Linked DNA regions of Homo sapiens: all the other regions are reported to be linked to region 2. Evidence: microRNA targets listed by miRTarBase, many of them from high-throughput screens and not tested one by one. Region 2 holds a microRNA gene; each other region holds the end of a gene's coding sequence.

What was found. Region 2 holds the annotated microRNA hsa-miR-520g-3p (ACAAAGUGCUUCCCUUUAGAGUGU, at 1,148-1,171, opposite strand). A microRNA usually pairs through its seed, bases 2 to 8, with sites in the 3' UTR of a target mRNA and lowers its output. Matches are read on the target gene's strand: a 7mer-m8 pairs with bases 2 to 8, a 7mer-A1 pairs with bases 2 to 7 and ends in A, and an 8mer does both.
Region 1: the mRNA of GRK3 is a reported target of hsa-miR-520g-3p. Seed matches in the 3' UTR shown: 7mer-m8 at 999-1,005.
Region 3: miRTarBase lists PIWIL2 as a target of hsa-miR-520g-3p. Seed matches in the 3' UTR shown: 7mer-m8 at 484-490 and 7mer-m8 at 1,366-1,372.

Annotation. Positions count from the first base shown.
Region 1 is chr22:25,721,673-25,725,022 of GRCh38, forward strand. It overlaps GRK3 (G protein-coupled receptor kinase 3), which reads left to right. Exons shown (of 21, transcript NM_005160.4): 21 at 617-3,350. The coding sequence ends at 778. Among named protein-coding and RNA genes, the nearest start is that of MYO18B, 19 kb to the right of the region's middle.
Region 2 is chr19:53,720,041-53,723,390 of GRCh38, reverse strand. It overlaps MIR520G (microRNA 520g), which reads right to left and starts at 1,225; the gene lies at 1,136-1,225. It overlaps MIR517B (microRNA 517b), which reads right to left and starts at 2,315; the gene lies at 2,249-2,315. MIR520D (microRNA 520d) reads right to left here and starts at 3,295; the gene lies at 3,209-3,295.
Region 3 is chr8:22,355,343-22,358,342 of GRCh38, forward strand. It overlaps PIWIL2 (piwi like RNA-mediated gene silencing 2), which reads left to right. Exons shown (of 23, transcript NM_018068.5): 23 at 7-2,226. The coding sequence ends at 163. Among named protein-coding and RNA genes, the nearest start is that of SLC39A14, 10 kb to the right of the region's middle.

The sequences.
Region 1 (3,350 bases), not on the chromosome of region 2:
CTTTGAAGATTTTTCGGCATGTTCGATGTTAAGGTTTATATATTTAGATAAATATAAGACGGCAAACTGAAATGCCATCTTCTCTAAACGAAAATGCCATCTTTTCCTCAAAGTTACATTGTAACACAAATTTCATTCCTGGACACTTTGTGACTGGTTCACTAGTGTGTGTGTTTTAAGAGAGCATATTTAGAGAAATAAACACGTATTAGATGCAAAAAAATCATTTTTACTAACATCAGTACTACATTACATACATGAATATATATTTAAAACATTTTTTAATTTGTCAAAACTCCTTCCCCTATATTATTATAGATTTCAGTTGTTTTAGAAATCAAAAGTAATCTCTAAACAAATTAAAGGCAGTGATTCTCAGAGTGGGATTGTACTGGAATCATCTGAAGGGTTTTAATGTGGCCTTTCCCTGCTCTTTTCAAGAGATTCTGGAGAAGGTGGCAGCGTGACCCATCAGCTAGTAATGCCACTGGGGGTGGACACGTAGGGTGTGCTTCCTTCAGGGGTTCCAGGGACGCTGGTAATCAATAGGGGCAGCCTCCGCTGTTGGCAAAATGGGTGAGCCTGTCACAACGGCTGCCTTTGTATTCCCCCTCAGAGTGATCCAGAGTTTGTGCAGTGGAAGAAAGAGTTGAACGAAACCTTCAAGGAGGCCCAGCGGCTATTGCGTCGTGCCCCGAAGTTCCTCAACAAACCTCGGTCAGGTACTGTGGAGCTCCCAAAGCCATCCCTCTGTCACAGAAACAGCAACGGCCTCTAGCACCCAGAAACAGGGAGGGTCCTCGAGGAGGACACACCAGGGTCTCAGCCTTTTGGGGTGAACGAGGATGAGGCATCTGATCTATTCGCTACCGGGACTCCTCCAGGCTCCCGAGAGGAGTCGGGACCCTTCGGCTTGGGGTCAGCTCAGCTCCCTGCCTTGTCACATTTGTCTGCATTAGAAACTACTGAAGAAATAAAAGTTCTTTTTCTTTGCTACACACTTTGGTACCTATGAACCTAGAACTTGAAGTGACTCCTACTTATCACGTAAATTTTTATGTCTGATATCAAACACATCTTAGACTCCCCAGAATGGAATTTAAAGATGTTCAGTGTTGGGTAACAGATTGCCCTAAGCATTGCCACATATTCTGTCTAGTCACTGCTGATTTTCTATGTCTTTGCTCCATACTGCTGGGGGATGGGAGAGCCACAGTGTGTTTCTTTTGTGCACTTCGCAACTGACTTCTTGTCCTGGGGTTAAAAGTTGAAGATATTTTCTGATGATATTAAAAGTTGAAGATATTTCTGCACTTGGGCCCTCCTCTGGGAGCCGCACCCACATGACTGCCCTGCCTCTGACCAGTCTGTTCCGGGGCCCCCTCAGCCAGGTGGGAATGACGGACACGTACTATCCAAGTGTATGGGATTAACTAATCATTGAAGGCATTCATCCGTCCATCATTGGAAAGATTTACAGTGATTCTGAAGGACAGGCCGTGGAGTTTTAGGTTTCAGGGGCAAGAGCAGTTTTCAAAAGTCTTTGAGTCCAGTGTGCACGAGTCGACAAGCAGTACCTGGCATGCAGGAGCACTCATGGGTGAGTCCGTCTCAGGTCTCGACAATTAGCAGTTGTGTGACAGTCATTCTGGTTCCTTCTGCCTGACCCTGGGAGACATATCAGTAATGGATGTACAAAAGCAGGTCTGTTTTATGTCTTAGTATAATTTCAGATGAATTGTATTGAAAAAATGCTGAGGAATGAATGTGTCAAAATGGGTTAACTGTGTATATTGACTTTCATGTCGTCATGCATCTGTCATGAATGAATGATACTTTGCACTGGGCTGTACGACAGTGAGGACCTTAGGGCATGAAGCCTTTTTCCTGGTCCCAGCAGCATCTGCCCTGTGAAGTTTGTTTTCTCCCACTGCCTCCAGGCCCCACTGATACCCCCAAATAGATGCTGGGTTATGAGAACCAGCGAAATCCCCCATGTCATCAGTCTTAAAAAAAAAATTTTACAAATCCACGTATTTGTCCCATTCTTGGAGTAGTTTTAGTGTATGTCTTTACATTAACTACTAACAGTATAAATAACTTGACATCGTAATTGTCTGCATCCTGTCCTTGATATTTTTAGCAGTTCCAAATCTTTGTTTTTGTATTTGTTTGCTGTGTTCATGGGCAAAGTAAGTACTTTTTAATGCAGTTATTTTGAGAGTTTGGAAGATAATTACCAAAAGGGTCCATTATTTCATAAGAGTTACTTTGCAAAAAAAAAAATGTGGGTTTTTTTTTTTGTCTATCTCAACTACTAGTTGGGGTTTAAATTAACATACATTTTCTACTATCTGTTATTTCCAGTGTGGGAGGAGGGATGTACTACTTACATGCATTCTCCTTATTTAAAAAGGAAGAATAGTATTCAAATTCTGTTGAAACACACACACACACACACACACACACACACACACACTCCAGAAGCAGAAAAGCCATTGTTCTTAAAGAGTGAATGTCTTCCCAGCCCTGGTTAATTATAGCTGTGACTGATGCCGTTCCCGTCTGCATCTCAAGCTCATAGGTTCTCAGCATGTGCAGTTGAGGATGCGCTGGGCCTCATGCCTGTTCTAGATCTCCAGGATAAAGGGCCTGCTGTTGACTCCACCAGGGTCTGGGCTTAGCGTCTAATATCTCGTACCTAGGGCGTGAGCTGCACAAACGTGTTCAGAAAGATTATTCAACTTTCCCATACTTGTTCTAAAATTGAGCTGATCCGCATCTCTTTCAAAAACTAGAATTTCTGCTCTAAGAATAGAACATAAGGCTCCACTCCCTTTTAGAAAAGATATATGAATTGGAAAATGCTCTGAAAGTCCTTTTGCTTCAAACAAAAGTGTAAACTTTTACACTTCCCCAACTCACATTTGATTTGTAATGATATGGTTGAGAAGTACATCTAGATGTCATTTATTAAAAGTGCTTTGTAAGACTAGATTGAGCTGTTTCTGAGGGCGGTCACCAGTTGTGTTGGGGTCTGGTTTGAGTGCCTTCTGCCAAAATGTTGTGATGGAGGTGTTTCTGCGACCAGACACAGGATACCGCTGTGTCTGCACCCGGTTGCCTGCATGGCCAGAGGAAAAGTCAGTTGGATTAAACATCATGGTATACTTGGCTGTTGTTTTTTTTTAATTTTTTAATTTTTTGGGATAGGGCCTCGCTCTGTCACCCAGGCTGGAGAACAGTGGGATGATCATGGCTCACTGCAGCCTTGAATTCCTAGGTTCAAGCAATCCTCCCACGTCAGCCTCCTGAGTAGCTAGGACTACAGGTGCATGCCACCTTTCCTG
Region 2 (3,350 bases):
AAAATTAGGGGGAAACAAAGATGCCCACACCTAAATAGCGTATCATTTATTGTTTAAGCACATCTCAAATACATTGTTTATCTAAAACACAAGTTTAACTGAGGGCCGGGACGAACCAAAAAATGGTCCTTACTTTCTTCCTGCCTGTGCATGGGTTAATATTTACATGTAGTCCCATCTAACAAGGCCTGGGAGGGGCAGAGGCAGGAGGATCTAAGACCACTTTAGCCAGGGCAGCATAGTGAGACCCCCGTCTCATGCATTTATCTCCTGGTCATGCACCCAAGATTTCAGCTTCATTTCCCCAATACACACTGAAGCCCCATGCACTCCACCTCCGTGCTCTTGCTCATCCCATCTGCAGGGACACTGAGGTCCCCTCAACTCCACCTGACCCCATGTGAGGTTCTATACCAGTGCCAGAAAAATTTCCATAAAGTAAGAGGTGTTGATGGCCACGCACCATGGCTCACGCCTTTGGGAGGCGCGCGGTGGTGGCTCATGCCTGTATTCTCAGCATTTTCGGAGGCCAAGGTGAGTGGCTCACTTGAGGTCAGGGGTTTGAGACCAGCCTGGCCAACATGGTAAGCCCCATCTCTACTGAAAAAAAAAAAAAAAAAAATTCAAAACGTAGCCAGGCGTGGTGGCGGCCACCTGTAGTTTCAGCTACTTCAGAGGCTGAGGCAGGAGAATTGCTTGAACCTGAGAGGCAGAGGTTGGAGTCAGTCGGGATCATGCCACCGCTCTCCAGCTGGGGAAACGAGACTCCATCTCAAAAATAAATAAATGAATAAAAAAGAAAAATACAAATATTAGCCAAGTGTGATGTCGGGCCCCTGCAATCCCAGCTATTCAGGAAGCTGAGGCAGGAGAATAGCTTGAACCCGCGAGGTGGAGATTGCAGTGAGCCAAGATCGTGCCACTGCACTCCAGCCTGGGTCACAGAGGAAGACTGTCCCAAAAAGGACCATATGAGCCCAAGAGACCTAGGTTGGAAGTGCCTCTGTACTCCAGCCTGGGCCACAGAGACCCTGTCTTAGAAAACAAAAACAAAACAGAACCCCAACATCATCCAAGTCTGATAATAAGCATGCAAATATATTACCAACATCAGCATCAACTTCAACACTGCTTTTCCCAAACGGTAACACTCTAAAGGGAAGCACTTTGTTTTTTCTCAGACAACAAACAGAAAGTGCTTCCTCTAGAGGGTCACAGCATGGGATCTTCTTGCTCCAGCACTCTGGGTTTCTTGTTGGAATTTTCCTTGACCAGGTTAAAACGGATACAAAAATAAAAATGCATTTATTGGCCCTGTTTACATGTTTTATGGAATCCAGAACATAAACCCCTGAAAGGACCATCTCCAATTCCTTGCTTCAAAGGCTCAGCAGGTTAGCCTTGTTCATCAAGGGGCGATCGTCCTGAGTTTTGTCCCCAAAGAGAAAAAGGAATACCTACTACTCATACCTTACATTTAGCTAAGAGAATTGGGCTGATGTTGAAGAATATACATTGTCTCACACACAAACATCCTCCAGGATAGACCAGAGTCTAGGCTGACTCTAGAGGACCACGTGAGATTAGGGGCGGTGGCTCACGCCTGTAATCCCAGCACTTTAGGAGGCCAAGGCTGGTGGATCACCTGAGGTCGGGAGTTTGAGACCAGCCTGCCCAACATGGTGAAACCCAGTCTCTATTCAAAACACAAAAATTAGCTGGGTGGGGCAGTAGGCACCTGTAATCCCAGCTACCCAGGAGGCTGCGGCAGGAGAATCGCTTGAACCCAGGAGGTGGAGGTTGCAGTGAGCCTAAATTGCAACACTGCACTCCAGCCTGGACATCAAGAGTGAAACTCCATCTCAACAACAACAACAACAATAAAAATAATAACTAGCAGGACACGATGGCGGGCATCTCTATTCCCAACTATTCGGCAGGCTGAGGTGGGAGAATCGCCGGAAGCTGGGAGGCGGAGTTTCCGGTCAACAGGGATCCTGCCGCTGCACTCCAGCCTGGGAAACGGAATGAGAGCGCATCTCAAAAAATCAAAAATAAAAAGATCACCACTTGAGCCCAAGAGATCTCGGTTGGAGGTGCCACCCACTCCCGCCTGGGCAACAGGGAACCTGTCTTGGAAAAAAACAAACCAAAGAGAACCCCAACATCATGCAAGTCTGATGATAAGCACGCTCTGCAAATGTATTACCAAGATCAGCAGCATCTTCAACGTTGCTTTTCTCAAACAGTAACACTCTAAAGGGATGCACGATCTTTTCTTAGACAACAGACAGTGCTTCCATCTAGAGGGTCACAGCATGAGGTCTTCTTGCTCCAGTACTGTAGGGTTCTTTTTTTTGTTTTTGTTTTTGTTTCTTTTTGACGGAGTCTTGCTCTGTTGCCGAGGCTAGAGTGCAATGGCACGATCTCGGCTCACTGCAAGCTCCGCCTCCTGGGTTCAAGCCATTCTCAAGCCTTAGCCTCCCGGGTAGCTGGGACTACAGGCACCCACCACCACGCCTCGCTAATTTTTTGTATTTTTAAATAGAGATGGGGTTTCACCGTGTTAGCCAGGATGGTCTCGATCTCCTGACCTCGTGATCCACCCGCCTCGGCCTTTCAAAGTGGTGGGATTACAGGCGTGAGCCACAGCGCCCAGCTTTTTTTTTTTTTTTTTTTTTTCAGACGGAATCTCACTCTGTCATCCTGGCTGGATGCTGTGGCACAATCTCGGCTCACTGCAGCCTCTGCCTCCCGGGTTCAAGCAATTCTCCTGCCTCAGCCTCCTAAGTAGCTGGGATTACAGGTGCCCACCACCACACTGGGCTAATTTTTGTTGTTATTGTATTTTTAGTAGAGACGGATTTTCACCACGTTGGTCAGACTGGTCTCAAACTCCTGACCTGAGATGATCTACCTGCATCGGCCTCCCAAAGTGCTGGGATTACAGGCATGAGCCACCATGCCCGGCTTTATTTTGTATTTTTATTCATTTGTTTATTTTTTGAGACAGAATTTCCCTGTGTTGCCCAGGCTGACCATTTGAAGCCAAGAGATATATTGGACATGTCACTGCACTCCAGCATGAGCAACACAGAGCCTTAGAATAAAAAAGCAAAACCAAAACAGAACCCCACCATCGTCCAAGTGTGATAAGCATGCTCTGCAAATGTATTACCGAAATCAGCATCAACTTCAACGTTGCTTTTCTCAAACCGTAACCCACCAAAGAGAAGCACTTTCTTTTCTTTTAGACAACAGAAAGGGCTTCCCTTTGTAGACTCACAGCTTGAGATCTTCTTGCTCCGGCACTCTGGGTTTCTTGTTGAAATTTTCCTTGACCTGGTCAA
Region 3 (3,000 bases), not on the chromosome of region 2:
CTACAGGCTGACTTTCAAACTGTGCCACATGTACTGGAATTGGCCTGGCACCATCAGAGTTCCAGCTCCTTGCAAGTATGCCCACAAGCTAGCTTTCCTGTCAGGACACATCTTGCATCATGAACCAGCCATCCAGCTGTGCGAGAACCTGTTCTTCCTGTGACTGCACAGCTTGGAGATGGGCTGGTGAGAAGAAAGGCGGCCTCAGAACTCAGCTGTGACTCTTGCAGAATCAACAGAGACTGAAGTGGGCTTTTGTGTTATAATTTTCCCTTTCTCCAACCCTGTAGAATAAGATTTCTTTCTTGTCTTTTAAACCTAATATCACCAAGAAGCAAGTTTCTGAGTAACAGCTGAAAATGGCCTTGTTGCCTGTGTAGAGCAAGTTACGGTGGTACTGCCACTCTGCAGGTGGAGCGGGTGACTCTGGGGGACCATTAAGACCTCCAGACCGGGTGCGGTGGTTCACACCTGTAATCCAAGCACTTTGGGAGGCCGAGGCGGGTGGATCATGAGGTCAGGAGATCAAGACCATCCTGGCCAACATGGTGAAACCCCGTCTCTACTAAAATACAAAAAAATTAGCCGGGTGTGGCGGTGCACGCCTGTAGTCCCAGCTACTCAGGAGGCTAAGGCAGGAGAATCGCTTGAACCCGGGAGGTGGAGGTTGCAGTGAGCCGAGATCACGCCACTGCACTCCAGCCTGTTGACAAAGCAAGACTCTGTCTCAAAAAAAAAAAAAAAAAGCCAACATGAGCTGCAGAAACCAGCAGAAGCAGCCATTATACTTCTAAGCTGTGCCAACTAAGTGGTTCCCATTTCTGGAGCCAGAGATGATAATTAAGTCATTGCAAGTTGCCTGAAGAGAATTACTCAGGCAACTGGGAAAGGCAGTGGAAGGTCTGTGAAGCAAAGTTTTCAAGTAGATATTGCTATTACTGGCAGGTGTGCAAGGCGTGTAGTAAAATCAGTTTGTGGCATAGGTCGGCCCTTGCTGACTAAATCCTCTCTGGGGATTGAATTGATGACGACTGTGACTTGAGTTGGATTCGAAAATGGCTTCCCTTGGCCTCTTGAAAGAGTGCAGATGAAGCCTTTTCCGTGGATTTCAGTAACTTTCCAGCATACCATGACGATTTCTTCCCCAAATATACACATGCTCTTTTGCTCTTTGTGCCTGATCTTCAGTAATTTTTAGTTTTTTAACAGGCAGAAAAAATCTAGCAGCTAGGAAAGTTCAAGTTGGGGTGGGAGTTTTTAGTGAACTTTTCTCCCAGGTGTGTGGCCTTTATTTCTATTTATATATGTTTGTAAATGGAATTACCCCCTTTCTCTTGCAAAATAACCGCTTCCTGGCTGTTGGCTCACTTTGCTGGAATTTTTCTGAATCCAGGTTAAGATTTCCAGAAGTCAGCTTTGGAAAACGTGACACTCCTACCAAAGTCCAGATGGTTAGAAAGTTATCACATACCATGGGTTTCAGTGTTTTTGGAAACCCGTTTTTTTCTGGTTTTTTTTCCCCCCTCTCCATTTTAGAATCTTCTCCCAGTCCCTTCGGGCCTAGTTCTGTCTCATCTTGCTTTATTGGGTTTTAAAAACCGGTCTTATTTAAGCTTTTCTAATTTGTATTTATGTACTTATTTATTTTTTGGTATGATGGCAGGGAGGGGACAAAGCAGAAATACCCCTTTTATATGACAATGTGTGAGAAAAGAAACTTTAGCTTAAAACTCCGTAAAATGTGCTCACTTCAGCAGCACATATACTAAAATTAAAATGATATAGAGAAGATTAGCATATAGAAAAAAAGAAAAAAGATTTCCTTAAAACAAGAAAACCAAGAATGTTTTTGGTTTGTTGCGGTGCCCAGCCGAGGTTGAGGAGGGATGGGTATTGTTGGTGCACTGCTGGTTTCATTTGGAGTGTGGGACATTAGGGTGAGACAAGGACCTGGAATTTAAAAACCACAGAATCAAACACTGTGAACCACTGGTCTCTGGCTAAGCAGATCAGTTTTCTGATTTTCCTTGGAAGCGTTTTGAATTTTTCTGTTGAAGTTGGATTTCCTAATACTTTTTTTCTCTTAGATAATCAGAACAAATGGTTGAATACATTATAATACAAAAATTTCTTCACTTTTTATTCTTGGTTTTCTTGCCTCGTTTTTCGGTTTTAATGCCAAATGATTGGGTCATGGGGTGGGAAATAAAAACAACTTTGTATAAATTTGTAGTTGTGTTTGAAATAATGTTGTTTATTTATTATTATATTGATGTAACTCTTTTTCTTCAGAGAGCTGCAGCACTTCCTAGAAACACTCATTACTCTGCTTGTAAGTTGCAACTCCAGTGTTAGTAGCCAGGTAATTTCATCATCAGCTGGGTAAGAAGACTTATTGAAAAAAACAGTAGCCACCTCACTTCTCAGACAGATGAGGCACTTTGTGTGTGTGTGTGTGTGTGTGTGTGTGTGTGTGTGTGTGTGTCTGTGTGTGGTTTTTAGCTCTCTTTCTCCCATCAGACAATTTCTTTTACCCTAAGTGAGAGCCAGAGTGTGTCCACTTGCAAGGGCAGCCTCCCCACCGCTCCACTATTTTAACGCTTGCCCTTTTTTACATATACCTCACGGGGTGTCTGTCACCATTGAAATACCTTCCCTGGGTACAAAAATCCCATTAGAAGGAATAAGATCTAGTAGTTCAGTGGCACAGTAGAGCAACTATAGTTAACAAAAATTTATTGTACATTTCAAAATAGAGGAGTGGAATTGGAATGTTCCTAACACAAAGAAATGATAAATGAGCCGGGTGCCGTGGCTCACACCTATAATCCCAGCACTTTGGGAGGCTGAGGTAGGTGGATCATTTGAGCTCAGGACTTCAAGACCAGCTGGGCAACATGGGAAGACCTTGACTCTACAAAATATAAAAATCGGCCAGGCTTGGTGGTGTGTGCCTATAGTCCCAGCTACTCAGGAGACTAAAGCAGGAGGATTGCTTGA